4 separate regions of the Homo sapiens genome follow, and regions 1, 3 and 4 are each linked to region 2. The links come from fine-mapping of genetic effects on gene expression. A gene starts in region 2. Each other region holds a variant in brackets. All regions are shown on one strand. Distances are from middle to middle. Region 1 overlaps CHUK (component of inhibitor of nuclear factor kappa B kinase complex). Region 2 holds the start of CWF19L1 (CWF19 like cell cycle control factor 1). Region 3 overlaps ERLIN1 (ER lipid raft associated 1). Region 4 overlaps CWF19L1 (CWF19 like cell cycle control factor 1).

What was found. PIP is the estimated chance that this variant, and not a neighbour inherited with it, causes the effect.
Region 1: its variant is the best candidate, but not a certain one, in a credible set for the expression of CWF19L1 in Th1/17 cells (Schmiedel 2018, PIP 0.81).
Region 3: its variant is the best candidate, but not a certain one, in a credible set for the expression of CWF19L1 in monocytes (BLUEPRINT, PIP 0.72).
Region 4: its variant is the best candidate, but not a certain one, in a credible set for the expression of CWF19L1 in hippocampus (GTEx, PIP 0.61).

What each region holds. Positions count from the first base shown.
Region 1 is chr10:100,208,467-100,213,616 of GRCh38, reverse strand. It overlaps CHUK (component of inhibitor of nuclear factor kappa B kinase complex), which reads left to right. Exons shown (of 21, transcript NM_001278.5): 10 at 3,828-4,022. Among named protein-coding and RNA genes, the nearest start is that of CHUK, 19 kb to the left of the region's middle. The variant T/C (reference allele first, on the strand shown) is at 2,377.
Region 2 is chr10:100,265,161-100,270,310 of GRCh38, reverse strand. It overlaps CWF19L1 (CWF19 like cell cycle control factor 1), which reads left to right and starts at 2,673. Exons shown (of 14, transcript NM_018294.6): 1 at 2,673-2,740. The coding sequence starts at 2,718. RefSeq lists an enhancer at 4,693-4,942.
Region 3 is chr10:100,171,686-100,176,835 of GRCh38, reverse strand. It overlaps ERLIN1 (ER lipid raft associated 1), which reads left to right. Exons shown (of 11, transcript NM_006459.4): 5 at 766-891; 6 at 2,555-2,628. Among named protein-coding and RNA genes, the nearest start is that of ERLIN1, 12 kb to the left of the region's middle. RefSeq lists an enhancer at 1,611-1,680. The variant G/A (reference allele first, on the strand shown) is at 2,358.
Region 4 is chr10:100,238,610-100,243,730 of GRCh38, reverse strand. CWF19L1 (CWF19 like cell cycle control factor 1) reads left to right here. Exons shown (of 14, transcript NM_018294.6): 10 at 1-33. Among named protein-coding and RNA genes, the nearest start is that of SNORA12, 3.9 kb to the right of the region's middle. The variant G/A (reference allele first, on the strand shown) is at 2,787.

The DNA of each region.
Region 1 (5,150 bases), 57 kb after region 2:
CTGGGAGGTGGAGGCTGCATTGAACCAAGATCGCACCACTGCACTCCAGCCTGGGTGACAGAGAGAGACTCTGTCTCAAAAACAAACAAACAAAATTGTTAATACGCTTTTAATTTTTTTTTTTTTTTTTGAGATAAGAGTCTTGTTCTATCACCCAGGCTAGAGTACCATGGTGCAATCTCCACTCACTGCAACTTTCACCTCCCAGACTCAAGTGATTCTCTCGTGCCTCAGCCTCCCGCGTAGTTGGAATTACAGGTGTGCGCCATCATGGCCAACTAATTTTTTGTGTGTTTTTAGTAGAGACAGGGTTTTGCCATGTTGGCCAGGATGTTCTCAAACTCCTGTCCTCAAGTGATCTACCTGTCTTGGCCTCCCAAAGGGCTGGGATTACAGGTGTGAGCCACCGCGCCCAGCCTAATTTTTTAAATTGACAAATAATTATACAAATTAATGGGGTAAATAGTGATGTTTCAATACATGCACTGTGTAGTGATCAGATTAGGGTAATTAGCATATCCATCAGCTAAAACATAATTTCTCTGTGTTGGGAATATTCAGTATCCCTTTCTTTTTTCTTTTTTTTTCTTTTTCTTCTTTCTTTTTTTTTTTTTTTGAGACAAAGTCTCACTCTGTCGCCTGGAGTGCAGTGGCGCGATCTTGGCTCACTGCAGCCTTGATCTCCCAGGTTCAGGCGATTCTCCTGCCTCAGCCTTCTGAGTAGCTGGGATTATAGGCGTTGTGCCACCAAGCCCAGCTAATTTTTGTGTTTTTAGTAGAGACAAGGTTTCACCATGTTGGCCAGGCTGGTCTTGAACTCCTGACCTTAAGTGATCTACTTGTCTTGTAATCCCAAAGTGCTGGGATTACAGGCGTGAGCCACCACGCCCAGCCTCAGTTTAGTATTTCTGTAGCACCACTTATTTGGGCATCTGTGTTAGGATTTGTAAGTGGAAATAATAGTGGGCCTTCAAACTAAAAAGTGTACAGTAGAAAAAATAATCAACAAAACGAAAAAGCAACCCAACCCATGGATTGGGAAAAGATATTTGCATACCATACATCCAATAAGAAATTAATATCCTAAATTTATAAGAAACTCATGCAACTCAATACCAAAAATGTAAATAACCCAATTTAAAAATGTGCAAAGGACCTGAATTAGACACTTCTCAAAAGAAGAAATTCAGATGGTCAACAAACATATGAAAAGGTGCTCAACAACTCTTAGCATCAGGGCGATGCAAATCAAAACCACACTAAGATATCACCCCCCACCTGTTGGGATGGCTATTATCCAAAAGAAAAAAGATAAGCGTTAGTGAGGATGTGGGAGAAAAGAAATCCCTTGTACACTGTTGGTGGGAATGTAAATTATTACAGCTATTGTGGGAAACAGTACAAAGGTTCCTCAAAATTAAAAATAGAACTACTGGCCGGGCATGGTGGCTCATGCCTGTAATCCCAGCACTTTGGGAGGTTGAGACAGGTGGATCACATGAGGCCAGGAGTTCGAGACCAGACTGGGCAACATGCAGAAACCCCATCTCAACTAAAATTACAAAAATTAGCTGGGCATGGTGGTGCACATCTGTAATCCCAGCTACTCCGTAGGCTGAGGCAGGATAATTGCTTGAATTCAGGAGGTGGAAGTTGTAGTGAGCTGAGAGATCATGCCACTGCACATCAGCCTGCGTGACACAGCAAGACTCTGTCTCAAAAGAAAAAAAAAAAAAATAGAACTGTAAGATTCAACAATGTCATTTCTTGGTATATATCCAAAGGATTTTAAAGCAGGCTTGTGAAGAGATATTTGCACTCCCATGTTCATTGCAGCATTATTCACAATAGTCAAGATCTGGAAATAGCCTAAATGTCCTTTGACAGATGAATGGATAGGGAAAAAGTGGTATATATACACAGTGGAATAGTATTCAACCTTAAGAAAAAGAAGGAAATTCTGCCATTTAGGACAATGTGGATGAACCTGGAGGACATGTTAAGTAAAATAAGCAAGTCACAGAAAGAGAAATACTGCGTGATCTCACTTACATGTGGAATCTATAATAGTTAAATTTAATAGAAGCAGACCATAGCATCATAGTTGCCAGGGGCTGCAGGGATGCGGGTGCGGGGGTGTATGTAGAGATGTTTATCAAAAGGTCCAAAAATTACGGCAGCAAAAGAAAAAAAAGGTACAAAAATGACAACTATGAAGAGGTGACAGATATATTAATTAGCTGAAATGTGATAATTTCACAACGTATATCAAAACATCAAGTTGTATAACTCAAATATATAACATTTTTATATGTCAAATTAAATTGTCACAAAATAAAATATGTAAAAGATAAAGCAATAAATCAGGAGAGGGGG[T/C]TATGATAGATGAAACAAGATAGGCTCTATGTAAATGATGGTTGAAACTAGGTGAGGCATTCACAGGGTTGGGAGGGGGCTTATTGTACTGTTGTCTATAGTTTTGTGTCTTTGAAAACATCAATTCAGATTTGTGTTTTAAAGGGAAAAAAATAATAGTGGACTTGGATTAATGCCTTACCTTTGTAGTAAGGATTTTCAGCAGAGAGAATTTTAATCATTTGCATATACTAGTCAATGTAAGGCATGGAGAATGTAGGCATTAATTTCGTATGGCTTTTCTAAGGATACTGGAAGGAAGAGAATTTAAAATCATGTTCTTTTCAAAAGACTGAAGTCCAACTCTGTGGCTGTCCGCGCTGACAGGTGGGGACAGAGCCCCACCTGACTCAGCCTCACACTCACTTGGCATGTATCAGGCTACTTTTACTGGGGCTTTAGGTGAGAGTGATAAAACGGTTCTTACTTGATTTGGGGCCCTTAAGCAGGTTGCTGCTCTGGGATTAGGTTGTCTTATAAAAAGGTAACTCACCACGCATAACAATGCTTTTTCCTGTTTAAAGAGAGACCTAGTTCTTCTATCAGATGATTTCTTAAGGCAGCATGAAGTAGCCAGACACAAAAAGAGTTAAGATCCAAGCTCTACCAGTTATTAGCTGTGTGATCCCTAACAAGTTATTTAACTTAGAACTCTGGTTTCTTTCTCTGTTTAAAATGGAGATTAAAAGATCTAATTATTGGGGATGTTATGTGAAAGTGGTTTATGCCTGTGGTTGTCTTCTGTTAGGCACTTCATGAATTGGAATGTTTCCTTTTCGGTCTATGATAATGTTTTTTTCAAAATAAATAACTTAGGCCGGGCGCGGTGGCTCACGCCTGTAATCCCAGCACTTTGGGAGGCCGAGGCGGGCGGATCACGAGGTCAGGAGATCGAGACCATCCCGGCTAAAACGGTGAAACCCCGTCTCTACTAAAAATACAAAAAATTAGCCGGGCGTAGTGGCGGGCGCCTGTAGTCCCAGCTACTTGGGAGGCTGAGGCAGGAGAATGGCGTGAACCCGGGAGGCGGAGCTTGCAGTGAGCCGAGATCCCGCCACTGCACTCCAGCCTGGGCGACAGAGCGAGACTCCGTCTCAAAAAAAAAAAAAATAAATAAATAAATAAATAAATAAATAACTTGTTCTTTCAAATTGGGATTTTTCTTAATTTTGAAAATTTCTTAACTTTGAAATTTTATTGTTGGAACTAACATCTATTGTAGAAAAGGAAATTGTTCAGTTTTCAGAATGTCATTTTATAATTATAAAAGGAGATCTCACTTTGGAGAATGAGTGAGCCTTGTTTAATGTAGAAATAATGCCTTTTGCCCATATTCACCTTTTAGTATCTGGCAGCGAATCTTTTATGTAACAAATAATCAATAACTTTACCTTTTTTTCTTATTTATACAGATAGTACACATCCTAAATATGACTTCTGCAAAGATAATTTCTTTTCTGTTACCACCTGATGAAAGTCTTCATTCACTACAGTCTCGTATTGAGCGTGAAACTGGAATAAATACTGGTTCTCAAGAACTTCTTTCAGAGACAGGAATTTCTCTGGATCCTCGGAAACCAGCCTCTCAATGTGTTCTAGATGGAGTTGTAAGAAAATTAATTATAATATCCCTAGAGTATGTGAAATCTAGAGGGATTGCGTGCCCTGCAATTTTTATGCATACTTGGAATTCCTTGGGAGGCCGCACATTTTGTTTTGGTTTTGTCCTTCTCCCAACTCTTATCATTGCTTTGCAAGGTGAACAGGATAGAAATGAAACATTTGTTGTTTTGAACTTTGCAAGACTTTTTCTTTGGTGCCAGTTTTCTGCTCCTGTTCCCAGACCAAACTGAGGGTCAGGCTGCTTACTCTCGCGGCCCAATAACGAGATGCAGATGAATTGGGAGAGATGGGAGTTTTTATTTCTGTAACCAGTTACAGGTAGAAGGCCTGGAAATTACCGCCAGACCAACTCAAAATTACAAAGTTTTTCCGTAGTTTATTTATCTTCTAAGCTATATGTCTATGTGTAAGTTTGCATTCATCTAAAGACATAAGTGATTAACTTCTTTTAATCTGTAGCTGAGGTCTGAGTCTTGAAGACATTCCTCTGGAGCCTCAGTAAATTTACTTACTCTAAATGGGTCCAGGTGCTGGGGTGATTACCCTTATCTTGTCTCCTATTAAATCACAGAGGTTTAAGGAGTTCCTTCAGACCCCCAATAAACTTGTTTGTGGAGGCCTGGGGTTTCTTCAGACCCCCAATAAAACTTATTTAATTCTGAACGGGTCCTGTTAAGAATTCCTTTGTTATTTTGCTTTTAGGCCTGGGAAAGGCCTGGGCAGAACTCTTGGTAGGCTTTGGCTACATTTCAGCCTTTGTGTAAGGGCACTGGCTCTTCCAGTTTTTTTTTTTTTTAGACAGTCTTGCTCTGTTGCCCAGGCTGAAGTGCAATGGCACAATCTCAGCTCACTGCAACCTCCGCCTCCTGGGTTCAAGTGATTCTCCCTGCCACAGCCTCCCAAGTAGCTGGGATTATAGGTGCCCACCACCATGCCTAGCTAATTTTTTGTATCTTTAGTAGAGACGGGGTTTTGCCACTCCTGACCGACCTCAGGCGATCTGCCTACCTCGGCCTCCTGAAGTGTTGGGATTACAGGCGTGAGCCACTGCACCCGGCCACTCTTTCAGCTTTTAATATTTAACTTCACCACTCAGTCGTGCTGAAACAGTT
Region 2 (5,150 bases):
CATTTGTATTTTGATGGGGATTGGACTGAATCTGTAAATTGCTTTAGGTAGTGTTGTCTTTTTTCTTTCTTTCTTTTTTTTTTTTTTGAGACGGAGTCTCGCTCTGTTGCCCAGGCTAGAGGCTGGAGTGCAGTGGCTGGATCTCCGCTCACTGCAAGCTCTGCCTCGCGGGTTCATGCCATTCTGCTGCCTCAGCCTTCCGAGTACCTGGGACTACAGGCGCCCGCTACCACGCCTGGCTAATTTTTTTGTATTTTTAGGAGAGACGGGGTTTCACCGTGTTAGCCAGGAAGGTCTCGATCTCCTGACCTCGTGATCTGCCCGCCTAATTCTTCTAATCCATAAGCGTGGAATATCTTTCCTTTTTGTGTGTGTGTCCTCTTTCATCAGTATTGTATAGTTTTCCTTGTATAGATCTTTCATTTCTTTAGTTAAATTGATTCCTACGTAGTTTATATTCTTTGTAGCTGTTGTAAATGAGATTGCTTTTTTGATTTCTTTTTCAGATTGTTTACTGTTGGTGCATATAAATGCTACTGATTTTTGTATGTTGATTTGGTATCCTGAAACTTTTACTGAATTCGTTTATTATTTCTAACAGTCTTTTTCGTGGAGTCTTTTGATTTTTCAATACGATGAGTTTTTATGTCTTACTTTTGTATCCTCTTCTGGGAATTATTACCTGCTCATGTTTGGCAAACTTCTACTCTTCTTCAAGATTCAGTCTTGAGTGCTACTCCTGGGCAGTGCTGTATTATCCAAAGAGTAGGAAAAAATGCATGCTTATGTGCCAGCAAAGCAGAGCCACCAGTTATGAGGCAAGAAACAAACAAAAAAGAAGGCTTGTAGGCTGTGGGAAAAGCCAGAACTTTGTAGTTTTGTTTGGTTATTGAGACAGGGCTTGCTGTGTCACCCAGGCTGGAGTGCAGTGGCAAGGTAATAGCTCGCTGAAGCCTCCATCTCCTGGGCTCAAGTGATCTCCCCACCTCAGCCTCTGGAGTACCTGGGAGTACAGGCATACGGCCACCATGCCCAGCTAACTTTTTTTTTTTTCTTTTTAAATTTGTAGTAGAGACGAGGTCTGGCTATGTTGCCCAGGTTGGCCTTGAACTCCTGTTCTCAAGTGAACCTCCCGCCTCAGCCTCCCAAAGTGCTGGGATTACAGGCATGAGCCACTGTGCCTGGCCTGTAGTTCTTCTTTAATCTTATGTTTTATTAATTTTGAATTATTTAGATGCCCTTGATGAGTCTTCCTTTCCCCGCAGTCGTCAGGAACTCTCTCTTGTTTCCATTTCCTTACACACTTGTTTCCTACCACTTGGCCTGAACCCTTCAAAAAAGTCAATATTACAAAAACTAAAACCAAATAGGTAGGAGGGCTTTTGTAGATTAAAATAGAGACAGAACCAAATGCAAGTGTGAAACTTGATTGCATCTGAATCAAAACAAGCCCCAAATATAAAATCAGTTTGTAGGGAAATATGGAGAACTTTAAATATGGATGTATATTAGGTAATATTATTGAATAATTAATGTTAATTTTCTTAGCTGTGTTAATAGTATTACGGTTATGTAGGAGGATATCCTAATCTTAGGAGATAAATGGAGATGTATTCCTGTTGTCCGCACTTTATTTTATTTTATTTTTTGACACGGAGTCTCGCTCTGTCGCCCAGGCTGGAGTGAAGTGGCGCGATCTCGGCTCACTGCAACTTCCTCCTCCTGGGTTCAAGCGATTCCCCTGCCTCAGCCTCCCGAGTAACTGGGACTGCAGGTGCGTGCCACCACGCCCGGCTAATTTTTTGTATTTTTAGTAGAGAGGGGGTTTCACCGTGTTAGCCAGGATGGTCTGGATCTCCCAAAGTGCTGGGATTACAGGCGTGAGCCACTGCGCCCGGCCTGTACTTTACTTTCAAATGATTGAGTGAGAATGGAAGGGCTTGGGCACTTTGAGAGAAAGAGAACACAAGCAAATTTGCCAACATGCTGAGACTTACTGAATCAAGGTAATAGCCATTATTCTTTTAACTTTTTTTTTTTTAATTTGAGACGGAGTTTCGCTCTTGTTGTCCAGGCTGGAGTGCAATGGCGCGATCTTGACTCACTGCAACCCCCGCCTCCCTGGTTGAAGCAATTCTCCACCATGCCCGGCTAATTTTTGTATTTTTAGAAGAGACGGGGTTTCACCATGTTGCCCAGGCTGGTCTTGAACGCCCGACCTCAAGTGATCCGCCCGCCTCAGCCTTCCAAAGTGCTGGGATTATAGGCGTGAGCGTCCACGCCCGGCCTCTTAACTTTTTGATAGGTTAAAAACTTACAAAAAACGTGGATAGAGGGGGTCTGTCTTGCCCACTAGACCGATATGGTTAGGTTAGGTTAGGTTAGGTTAGGTTAGGTTAGAACCCGACATTGTGCTCTGTACTTCCTAGCCATTCATTCGCTTCAAGTGCTCTGAAATTTAATTTAAAAAATCATAGTTGGAATCCTTTCGGTCACTTTCTCTTTCTCCCTTCGTTCCTCCCTTTCCCTCTTGATTCTTCCTTGAGGCGCAAACACCTGAGAGAGGCTTCTGTCCCTCGGCGGTCTCCGTAAGTAAGTGAACCGTTATTGGCTGGAGGGCGCTGACGTCTGATTGTTGCGCGGTCGCATTTTTCCGGGGAGCGCGGATTCGCATTCCCAATTTTAGGTGGCAGTCGCAACCCATACTATTCGGACAGATGGCACAGAAACCGCTGCGCCTGTGAGTGACCGTGAATGGAAGCCTCTCTCCCTGTGTCTCTTTCGTGTGTGTAGGTGACGACACGGGCGGGAGTCTTTCCCATGACGGGAAGGGAGAAGGAAAAGGCGGAGAGACACGGGGCTGCTGGGGAGCTTAGGTGATGTCTTTGCCTGGCCGGGGCTGACCTCTTTTCCTGGCCCTTTTCGCTTCTGAGGGGGTTTCTCTTGGCGACGCTCGTTCGGAGAGGCGGAAGCTCCCAGAGTTAGGCCTCCTCCATCTTAGGGGGCAGTCCTGGCCTCTGACACATCCTTTCCCCTTCGTTTCTCCTGACCCCATTTATTTACTCGCCAAATAGCCATTGGGCCCACTGATGGGCCCTGGGCAGTGGTGGACAGAGTAGATAGGGACCCTTCCCTGGGGCATTTTTTTTTTTTTTTTTTTTTTGCGAGGAGGAGGGGTGGGGGTGGTGGTGAAGAGAGGGCTTCATGCAGCAAGTATTTATTGAAGAACTGCAGTGTGCCGGACGCTGTGCTAGGTGTTGCAACAGATGGAGTTCCTGCTTTAATGGAGCGTAGAGTCTAGAGGAACAGGTACTAAAGAATCCAGATAATGGGCCGGGCGCGGTGGCTGAGGCAGGAGAATCGCTTGAACCCGGGAGGCGGAGGTTGCTGTGAGCCGAGATCGCGCCACTGCACTCCAGCCTGGGCGACAGAACGAGACTCTCAAAACAAAACAAAACAAAACAAAACAAACAAAAAACAATACAAATAATGGCCGGGCGCGGTGGCTCACGCCTGTAATCCTAGCACTTTGGGAGGCTGAGGCGGGCGGATCACTTGCGGTCAGGAGTTCGAGACCAGCCTGGCCAACGTGGTGACACCCCGTCTCTACTAATACAAAAAAAAAAAATTAGCCAGGCGTGGTGGCGCGTGCCTGTAATCCCAGCTACTTGGGAGGCTGAGGCAGGAGAATCGCTTGAACCCGGAGGCGGAGGTTGCACAGTGAGCCGACACTGCACCTCTGCACTCCAGCCTAGGTAACAGAGTGAGACTCCGTCTAAAAAAAAAGGAATTCAGATAAATGTAAAGTTACCATAGTGATAGGGCCAGGCGCAGTGGCTCACGCCTATAATCCCAGCGACTCCGGAGGCCAAGGCAAGAGAATCACTTGAGTCCAGGAATTCAAGACCAGCCTGGGCAATATAGCAAGGCCCCGTTTCTACAAAAAATACAGAAAAAAAAAAAAATTAGCCGGGCGTGGTGGTCCCAGCTAATTGGGAGGCTGAAGCAGGTGGACCACCTGAGCCTGGGGAGGTCGATGCTGCAGTGAGCTGTGATCGTGCTGCTGATCTCCAGGCTGGGTGACAGATTGAAACCCTGTCTCAAAAAAAAAAAAAAAAAAATTGCAATAGTGGTAACTTTTGGGAAGAAAATATTCGTGAATCTGGGAGAGTGCATAAGAGGGGTATTTGGCTTAATGATAGGAGTCAAGAAGGCTTCCCGAGAATGTTAGGATTGAGCCTTGGGAAATAAGAGTAATCCATTGCTTAACAGCAGGGTTATGTTCTGAGAAATGAGTTGGTAGGCGATTTCGTCATTGTGCGAACATCTTTGAGTGTACTTCCAGAGACCTAGATGGTATGGCTTCCTGTACACCTAGGCTAAATGGTATAGCTGTACGTCAAGTTACTGTACTGAATACTGTAGGCAATTGTAACACAATGGTAAGCATTTTTGTATTTAAATATAGAAAGGGTACAGTGAAAACACCTGGCCGGGTGTGGTGGCTTATGCCTGTAATCCCAACACTTTGGGAGGCCGAGGTGGGTGGATCACCTGAGGTCAGAAGTTCAAGACCAGCCTGGCCAACATGGTGAAACCCTGTGTCTACTAAACATACAAAAATTAGCCGGGTGTGGTAGCGGGCGCCTGTAATCCCAGCTACTCAAGAGGTTGAGGCAGGAGAATGGCTTGAGCCTGGGAGGCAGAGGTTGCAGTGAGCCGAGATCGCACCACTGCACTCCAGCCTGGGCGACAGAGCGAGACTGTCTCAAAAAAAAAAAAAAAGAAAAAGAAAAAAAGAAAATACTGTATACAGGAAAAAAAAAAAGGGCACAACCTGTGTAGGACACTTATCATGAATGGAGTTTGCAGAACTGAAAGTTTCTCTGAGTGAGTTAGTAAGAGGTGAGTGAATGTATTACTTTACAGTATTGTAGACTTTATGAATACTGTACACTTCACCTATATTAAATTTATTAAAATATTATTTTCAACAGTAAACCTTAGTTTACTGTAACTTTTACTTTATAAACTTTAAGTTTTTTTACACTTTTTGACTCTTGTTATAACACAGCTAAGACATAAAACACATTGTACAGCTGTACAAAAATATTTTCTTTATATCCTTATTCTACAAGCTTTTTTCTATT
Region 3 (5,150 bases), 93 kb after region 2:
TGAAATCCAGTTGCATCTAATATCCCACATGGGAAGGCCAGTGGAGCAAATTCTTGGATCTGAAGACAGAAGTAGAAAGCAGCATGTTTTTGTAGATAAAGAACAGGTTCTGACGTGGTCTAGTATGTACCTTTTGGGCATTTCTAAAATTCTCTGTTTCTTAGTTTCCTAATATGCAAATTTAGGAGAATTCAGTGCTAATTTATGTAAATTACCTGATATAAAGCCCAGCTCAGTTAATGTTTTAACAACTTTAAAAAATTGCCTTTTTAAAAACGGTCTTTTGCAACTGCTTTCTTCTTTTATTTCTACTGTTCCTCAGTTTGCCTAGTCTCTCTTTACCTCTTAGCTAAACTTTTGCAGTAATTGCCTTATGCTTTCCCTGCCTCTGATCTTTATGCTTCTCAGTTCATCTTCACACTGCTGGCCAAAGCGTAAATCTGACTGTCATGCCCTTGCTTGAAACCTTTGATAGTTCCTTATTACCTCCAAAATAATGGATACTTTAGTGTGGACTTTAAAGTTAGCCCCTGTTTGATGGGCTAACCAGCAGGTGTTTGGCATTAGTATTACAAATGCAAGGGTATTTGGAAAATTGAGCACAAGCAACACATCAAGATTTGTTAGTTGTGGTTTTTGGTTTCACTATTTTGTTGGCACTTTTCCTCATGTGTAATATATCACCCTGACTTTTACCCTGGCTGAATTTGAAGGTACCTGTGTCATTGTTGGGTAAAACAAACATGGGTTGTACCTCTCCTTCAGTGTTTGATATCGTGAGGAACTATACTGCAGATTATGACAAGACCTTAATCTTCAATAAAATCCACCATGAGCTGAACCAGTTCTGCAGTGCCCACACACTTCAGGAAGTTTACATTGAATTGTTTGGTAAGTGTCTTAATTCTTATGTATGTAAATAGCCAATTGGAAATCTTTGTTCAGCTTACTTATTGAGGTTATATTGGTAAACCTTAGTGCTATTTAAGCATTTCTTCTGAATTTATCATAGAGCAATTGTCTTTAAAATATTTTTTATCTTAAGTTTAAAATTTTTTATATAACTTGTTAGAGATTGGAAAAACTACTCAGACTGTATTCTGTTTTTACTGTAATAACTTAGTGAAAATTAGCTTTGTTGATGTTTTAATAGATAATTTGAAAAATTTAGAAACCTGTGTCTTGAGGCTCCCATTTTTGATGATTTGGTAGGAGACTGACAGGACTCAGCACATAGTTGTGTTCACAGCTAAGATTTATTACAGCCAAAGGGTACAAAGCAAAATCAGCGAGAGGCAAAGGCACACCAGCAAAATGCAGAGGAAAGCAGGTGCAGGCTTCCAAGAGTCAAACATGTGCCTAATTCCCACAGCAACAAGCTGTGACAACACATGTGAAATGTTGTCTACTAGGGAAGCTCATTGGAGACTCATTGCCCAGGGTTTTCACTGGGGGCTGATTATGTAGGCACCCTCTGCCTACCACATAAAAATTCCAGACTCCTGGAAGGAATGCAGGTGTTTGGCATAAGCCACATTGTATAAACAGTTCACAGCAAGTCAATTGTATTAGCTCTGGGGATAGTGGGACCCTTCTACAAATCCAAGTTCCTAGGTGCCAACCAAGGACGAGTTTACAAAAGGCCTTTCTAAGGATTGCAGTATCAGCCCTGCTTTCTTAACTCACTTCTGTACAACTTACTTTTCATTTATGATAGTGGAAGTTCTGACCAGGGAATGAGTTGTTGCTGTTGGTAGCTCACTTTTCCCTCCTGAAATTTTTAGTGAATTTCTAAGATGAAGGAATAAGCAAGAGTAATCAATTTAAAATCTACCAATTGAGTCCTCTTTGGTGATTGTCAACCACTGAAGTGGCATGTGAGGAAACTGATGGGTCCTGCTTTGTCTCACCACCAGTCATTTAAATAGCGAAAGTACCATTGAGGTGAATAGAAAGTGCATAGTTACAAGCCCAAGTGTTCATGCTGTGTATATTTCAAATACTTTTCTATGAGCTTCTCTCTCTGTCTCTCTCTCTCTCTCTCTTTAAATCCAAAATAACAGTGAGGCTGAGATCCATGGAAATGAAGTTTAGTTATTTGGGAATTTGAGTAAAGATTTACTGAACATAGAAATTTGTTTTTCTTTGAGAATGAGGATACATATTGAGTAAGAGCCCTGAATTAAGATACTAGAGATCCAGATTCTCCATTTATTAGATCAACATATTTTACCCAGTAGTTGTTTATCCAGTAAATAAGTCTAATAAGTTACCCAGTAAAAAAGCTTATCCATAGTTAAGTAATACATTTAGTGGGTAAACTTATTGGATAAACAGACTATCTGCTTGTCATCTTC[G/A]TTCCTTAATTTCTTTATTAGATAATTCCTTGCAATTTTTTTCCCACACAAAAGGGAAGAAAAGGCAGTTTAAGCTCTGTAAAAGAATAGTACTGTGGAAACTTTAGGTCTAATAATGATTAGTTTTGTTTCATTATGAATACAATGTAAAAAAAATTGACTATCATGAGATCTGTTGTTCTTGGCTTAAAAAACAGATCAAATAGATGAAAACCTGAAGCAAGCTCTGCAGAAAGACTTAAACCTCATGGCCCCAGGTCTCACTATACAGGTAAGTTCTTTTCCTAGGGAAGTTCTCTGGGGATTTTGAGAGCTTTGAGTTTGTTCCTCCTTTCATTGGATTGTTTTATTCAGCAATTATTTGAGATGCTATGGTGATTTATAGAATACCTTTCTCAATTTGACTTTAGATCTCTGCCAAAATAAAATACTCTTGTAGCTTACTATGGGTGACATTTGTGAACTCCTAGAGGGAACTGATAAGCTGAGGCTCTTACAAGGAAGTAAAATTCATATTTCTGCCATGTATGAAGCATTAAGATACAGTAATGGTTATAAATCAGTGTAAGCATAATCCCTGCCCTCAGTAAGATTATGAAAAGGGAGTTCAAGTGTAAAATTTGAACAATCCTGGACAAAATAGTTATCACAAAGTATTAATTGACAGATGAATCTATTGAATGATTATTGCTGTAAGAGTAAGAGAACATTGGAAGACAGTGTGTCTAGGAGAGGGCTGTGATTGAGTTGAGATTTTAAGTAGGTTTGGAAAAATTAATTGGATTTAAATGGGGGAAGAATGAGAAAGGTATTTCAAGTGGGAGGGACAGCCCTAGTAAAAACAAGGTAGCAGGTGAATTTAGTGGTAGTGGTGATGGTGACGTTGGGAAATAGAATGGTGAGAGGTTTTACCCCTGCTTTTTTTTGGGTCACTGTGTTTTCCAGATTGTGGGTTGTAAAATCAACTTTAGTGAGTCATGAACAGCATTTTAAATAAAATGGAATAGAATAGGAAAAGAAATGGTATGTAATAAGTTTAAATATTCTGTGACACTTGTGTTTCACAGTGTGGCGGGGTAGGTGTTTATATTGGACGTCAGTGCAAAATGTGTTTCTTACTGTGTCCACTGTCAGTAACATTCGAAAGCCACTGCTCTGGATCCAGATGACCTAAGAAGTTATATTGAGGCTTCTCTAGTGTCCTTTCTCAGGAGCTCTAGGAGACCAGTTGATTGTTGATTGTTGTGATGAACATTACTGCAACTAAAGCTTATCACATGTCTCTCAATTCTTTACACTCAGCACCACTGCTACTGAGAGTGTGCGCTCACTGTGATTGTATGTGTTCGTGCTTCTCAAAAACAAGACTGAAAGATAGGTGGGGTTTTCCTCATGGCCTCATTCATGCAATGTCATTATCTCAGGCGCTTGAGGGTGAGCCACCAGAGTTAAGGGGTCGTTTGAAATGTCCAGAGGTAACTTTGTAAAATCCTCTGAGTTGTTCAAGTCAGTTGTAGCTGGAGTAGCTTTTTAGTTTTAAAGATAGTGAATGTGAAGGTCAGCTCTTAGATTCTGCCCAGGGTGTTACTCAGAGATCTAGCTCATTCAACTGTTGTTTAGAATTCCTTGCCTTATATTACTTAGCCATTTTTCTGTTCCCAGTTTTTTGCTATTAAACAATAGTGTAATGAACATTCATGACACATGTTCTTGTATGTACAAATTATCTTTCAAACTGACTGTACAAATGTACATTCTTAACAGCAATATGTGCAAATAATTGTGACCCATGAACTCACCAACATTGGAAGCAATCAGACATACTGATTGTTACCATATGGATGGGTGGGCAATTATATCTCCCTTTGATTTGCATTCCTTTGGTTGTTAATGAGGTTGAACATCTTTTGATACATTTATTGGTCATTTATACTGTCTTCTGCTGATTGCCTATTCATATCTTTTGCCCATTTTTCTGTTGGATTGTTTTCTTTCTTACTGATTTGTTCTGTATAAATTTGGAATTTTTATACACACACGTTATTTATGTTGTAGAAAAAAGTTAGATACTAGGAAAATGATGAAGAATAAAATGAAATTCACCAGTAATCTTATTATGCAGGGATAACATCATTTGTTATATCTTTCTCGACTATTCTTAATGTATATGAACAAATGTTTGTAGATATAAATGCATACATGCTCAACTAAAGCAGAATCATACCATACTTGCTTTTTTCACTAACATTGTCTATGAACATCTTTCCAAAACAAAAATATAGGTTTGGTAAATCATTACTTTTAATGGTTATATTTAGTGAATCTCTATGGTTTCAAATTTTTTACTACTGTATGCATGTTGGAATGACCAAGCTTATATATTCTGTACATCTTTTTAAATCCCTCTCTTACAATAAATTCTTGAAGTGGGATTGATGATCAAAGTGTATGCCCTGTTTGGGGGCTTATTGATACATACTACCGAATCACCTTTTAGAAAAATTTTAGCAGCTCCCCCCCTCATTAGCAGTGTTGGTAAGCTGTAGTTCTTACACATTTGATTGCATGATTGTACCCAAATAATTAGCAGATGCAAGCTTTCCCTTTCTCTCTTAATCCTTTTGGAGAAAATTAGTCTGTTATTTTGTGTTAATTATTGAAGTTGAATACCCTAGGTTATTAGCTGTTTTTATTTCATTTATAAATTGTTGGTTTTGCTCATTTTTGTAGTTAATGGTTTTTCTAACTGATTTTAATAAGCTATTTTTGGCTGGGCATAGCGGCTCACATCTG
Region 4 (5,121 bases), 27 kb after region 2:
GAAAAACATTTGGTGGTCAACATCGGCACACATGTGAGTTACTTCCTTGGACTTTATAGAGAAGGAGATGCCTATTTGTTTTTTATTAACTTTATTGAGGCATAATCTACATATAACATTTACCCATGTTTAAGTGTATGATTCGGTGATTTTCGTAAGGTTACTGAGTTATGCCACCATCACGTGGTATAGTTTTAGAACATTTTTATCATTGCAGTAAGATCTCTTATGCCCATTTACAGTTAATCCCTGTTCCCAACTTTAGCCTCAGGCAGCAACTAGTCTACTTACTATCTCCATAGTTTGCCATTTTTGGACATTTCTTATAAATGGAATCATACAACATGTGGTCTTTTGTGTCTAGCTTCTTTTACTTAGCATAATATTCTTGAGGTTCATCCATGTTGCAGCATGTATCAGTATTTCATTCCTTTTTATTGCCAAATCATATTCCAGTGTATAGATGTACCACATTTCGTCTATATCTGTTCATCAGCTGATGGACGTTTGGGTTGTTTCTACTTTATGGCTATTAGAAATAATGCTCCCATAAAATATCTGCATGCAAGTCTTTGTGTGGATATAGACCTAGGAATGGTCTATATTTTGGATAGACCTAGGAATGGATTTGCTAGGTTATATAGTAAATTTATGTTTAACTTTTAAGAAACTGCTAAACTGTTTTCCAAAATGACTGCACCATCTTATATTCCCACCAGCAGTGTATGAAGGTTTCTGCTTTTCCACATCCCTGTCAACATTTGTTATAGCAATAGCCAGTTTTACAAGATAGCTCTCTTTTCCTCTCTCATAAATAGGTATGGTTCTCTAGGGGTGATGCTTTTATATACTTCTTGGACTCTCTGTATTTTTTAGCCCGTCTAATTGAGAGTGATGAGTTCCTTTTGCTAATTACCATTTAAAGTGATTTTCTTTGTCCTAAAAAGGCAGTCTTCTGTTGCTTATATACCTGTATTGGGTTAAAAATGTTGATATTCTTTTTATAGCTTCAGATTCAGAAACTAGAGCCTTATGAAATTTTTTTTTTTTTTTTTTTGAGATGGAGTCTCGCTCTGTTGCCCAGGTTGGAGTGCAATGGCGTGATCTCAGTTCACTGCAACCTCTGCCTCCCGGGTTCAAGTGATTCTCCTGCCTAAGCTTCCCAAGTAGCTGGGATTACAGGCACCTGCCATCACATCTGGCTAATTTTTATATTTTTAGTAGAGACAGGGTTTCACCCTGCTGGCCAGGCTGGTCTCAAACTCCCGACCTCAGGTGATCTGCCCGCCTCAGCCTCCCAAAGTGCTGGGATTACAGGCGTGAGCCACCACCCCCGGCCTATGAATTTTTATCTGGAATTATGTAATGCTGGAAGCTGATTCACACTAACTGATCACATCAAAGATAAAATTTCAGTTTTGCTTAGTAGTGGAGGGTGTAGCTTACTAATGACAGGAATACCCATATTCACACTCCTGGTGTGAGTATCTAGGAACCCAAGATGATGATGATATGGTTGTTTGGTAAGCATTGAATCAGACTATGAGAACGGGATGGTCTTGAGTATGATTTTATTCAGGTGGTGGAAAGCTTGAATGTGTGTGTCTCATGGGAAAGTCATTCTATTTCACATTTCCCCAGATACTTTTGCTTGGGTAGGGCTGGATTAGACATTAAATAATACCAGTGTTTGACTCTGATTTCCCTGGGTTTTCTGTAGACCATTGTTCTTTTTCATTCATTTAGAATGAAGAAAACTTAATTTTTAACACTATAGTCACCAGTGACTAGAATTGGATGTTCCCCAAGATTCCTGAGGAAAATATTTATAAGTCATTTTTGTTTTGTGACAGTTTTGGGAGGTGGGGCCTAATAAGAGGTGATTTGGTCATAAGGACTCTGCCTTCATGAATGGATTAATGTTATCACAGTAGTGGGTTATCATGAGAGTGGCTTTGTTAAAGTGAGTTCAGGTCCCCTTTTGCTTCTTTACTCTCACCCTCACTTGCCCTTCTGCCATGGGATGATGCAGCACGAAGGCCATTGCCAGGTGCCAGTGCTATGCACTTCGACTTCCCAGTCTACAGAACCACAAGCCAAATAGATTTCTATTCAAATAAATTATAGTCTGTGGTATTCTATTATAGCAACACAAGATGGACTAAGACAATTCCTTAAGTGTGTAGTGCTTCTGAAGACAGGTGCCTTCATCCATTTCTCATTGATTTGTTCTACTTTTGGTTTCTGGGGTTGATCCTTTCAACTTATCCTAACAATCTGAGGACCGTTTTTTGTGTCTTCCTTCCTGTAGACTGACTAGAGTCTCAATTTCATCTTACACTTTAAGGAGTTACACTTCTGCCTGTGTTGTTTCCACCTGAAGAGTCTCAGTCTTTTACATTTTAAAAAATGTCTTGGCCGGGTGCAGTGGCTCACGCCTGCTCACGGCTGTAATCCCAGCACTTTGGGAAGCTGAGGCAGGTGGATCACGAGGTCAGGAGTTCAAGACCAGCCTGGCCAAGAAGGTGAAACCCTGTCTCTACTGAAAATACAAAAATTAGCTGGGCGTGGTGGCGGGCGCCTGCAATCCCAGCTACTCAGGAGGCTGAGGCAGAGAATTGCTTGAACCTGGGAGGTGGAGGTTGCAGGCCAAGATCGCGCCACTGCACTCCAGCCTGGGGGACAGAGCAAGACTCTGTCACAAAAAAAAAAAAAAAAAAAAAAAAAAAAGGCTTAATTAGTGGCACACTCCTGTCTCTAGGGGGAGCACTAATGAAGTCAAGGCC[G/A]GTGACACAACTGAGCCATAGAACCTGTGGATGAAGTCTTCAGTGGAATAAGAGCAAACTTGAGAAGCTCTAGCTTTTATAGCAGTGCCCTTTTTGGATGATCTCTTTTGCATCTTTTTTCGTCTTTGGATTAGTTTATGCTATTTTTCTCTCCCACACAATTTGTATAGTAAGTTAGGCTTTGAATTGCCTTCTGTTTGGGAAGCTTCAATAGGTTCAAGATCACACGCAGGAGATAAGAGATTTGGAATGTGTGACATAGCTCAGTGCTGCTCTAGGCCTCAGTGAGAAGTGACTTTTCTTTTCCATTCATCTTTCTATTGTCCAGGTTACTCTAACTCAGGGTGTGGGCCTGGGCAACAATCAAGGAAACCTGTTTTCTTCTCATCTAGGCCTGAAACTAGAGGGGAAAAAGGTCTTGTTTGTGGCCCAACCCAACATCCCAAGTAGGCCACATGAGTATTTCAGCCTAGAGTCTACACTGTCCTTAGGTAGAAACCTCTTACAAACCTGTAATGACCTTTGGGTGTCTGTGGAAGAGTTTGGGATCTCCTCCCTGCAATTATTCTTTTTGATTGCCTTTTTTTGTTTTTTAAATTTTTTCCCTGGCTTTCTCTTTGTCGTGCCTTCCTCAAAGGTAGTACATAGAATTGTGCTGATGGTCCATAGCCACAGATTAGTAAAAAGGGGGAAGGGCTGCTGAGAGTGTAAAATAATTATTGCAAAATCAATGCATTTTACTTACGGGGAGAACCATTTATCCAGGTCCTATTTACACATGGTTAGAGATAATTCTAGTATAGAACAGATTAGAAGGTGAGAGTTTGAAAGAGAGAGGAGATTAGGCAAGCGTGAAACTATTCACAAAAATTGCAAGTACAGGATTAGAGATGGTGCAGAGGAGCTCTTTAGTTTAGACATCATTACCTAAAGAATGCACATCATAATAGAGAAGCTGATGTTTATGGCAGTGACCTTCTGACAAAAATAGCTAGACGACTCAGGCTTCTAGAGTAACCTTTTAAACAAATACAATATAAAGTGGTTATTATACAAATAAAAAAAAGTTTTTAGTGCCTGTGAGGTTTTCATCAACTTTAGTCATCTGGAAAATTAACTTTGTCAATATGCTCAGTCCTCTCTGCCAAACAAATCAAGGACAATCATGCTTTAGTATCTTTCCAATACATATCCTGTCATTCTGTTGGACTTTCTTATTATAGATGAGAAGTGATTCCTTCCTTCAGCCTTAACTTTGAGCCCACCACACTAAGAGCATAGTTGGAATAATTTTTTATTTTTTTTCCTGAGACAGTCTTGTTCTGTCGCCCAGGCTGGAGTGCAGTGGCACGATCTCGGCTCACTGTAACCTCCGCCTTCCAGGTTCAAGCAATTCACCTGCTTCAGTCTCCCAAGTAGCTGGGATTATAGGCACGTGCCACCATGCCCAGCTAATTTTTGTATTTTTAGTAGAGACGGGGTTTCACCTTGTTGGCCAGGCTGGTCTTGAACTCCTGACCTCGCGATCCATTTGCCTTGGCCTCCCAAAGTGCTGGGATTACAGTCATGAGCCAACGCACCCGGTCTGGATAATTGTTTTCTAACGTATCTATATTTGCCTGTACTGGTACTCATTGGGCCCTTCTGTGCTCACTCATGGCATCTTCCCATCAGAGAATATCTGAGTGGTAGACCATTCTTGCATGTTTTGGTTTTTACAGAAATATTTTTAGTTGCCATTAAAGGCTGACATCCATTGTTGGAAATCATTCTTTTCTGCCTCTTTGGATGCATCTGAGTTTGAGGTTTTACTTTCCTTCTACCCCATTAGGTTGTATGTTTGCTTTTGTTTTGTAGAATTTAGTCAGCAGCTTAAGGCTTAGGAACATTAGATGCTAATCATGCCATCTTAGCTTTTTTTGTGAGCCCAAGGAGTATATTCGGGGGTGGGGGTGGGAATGAAAGTTACTGGGGAGGCAGAAAGGGGTCATTTTTTTTTTTTTTTTTTTTTTGGAGACGGAGTCTCGCTCTGTCACCCAGGCTGGAGTGTAGTGGCGCGATCTCGGCTCACTGCAACCTCTGCCTCCCGGGTTCAAGCAATTCTCCTGTCTCAGCCTCCCGAGTAGCTGGGACTACAGGCACATGCCATCACAGGCCTGGCTAATTTTTGTATTTTTAGTAGAAATGAGGTTTCACCATATTGGTCAGCCTAGTCTGGAACTTCTGACCTCAGGCGGTCCACCTGCCTCGGCCTCTCAAAGTTTTGGGATTACAAGCGTGAGCCACTATCCCAGCCGAAAGTGGTCATTTTGAAATCAGAAGTTGTATCTTTTTG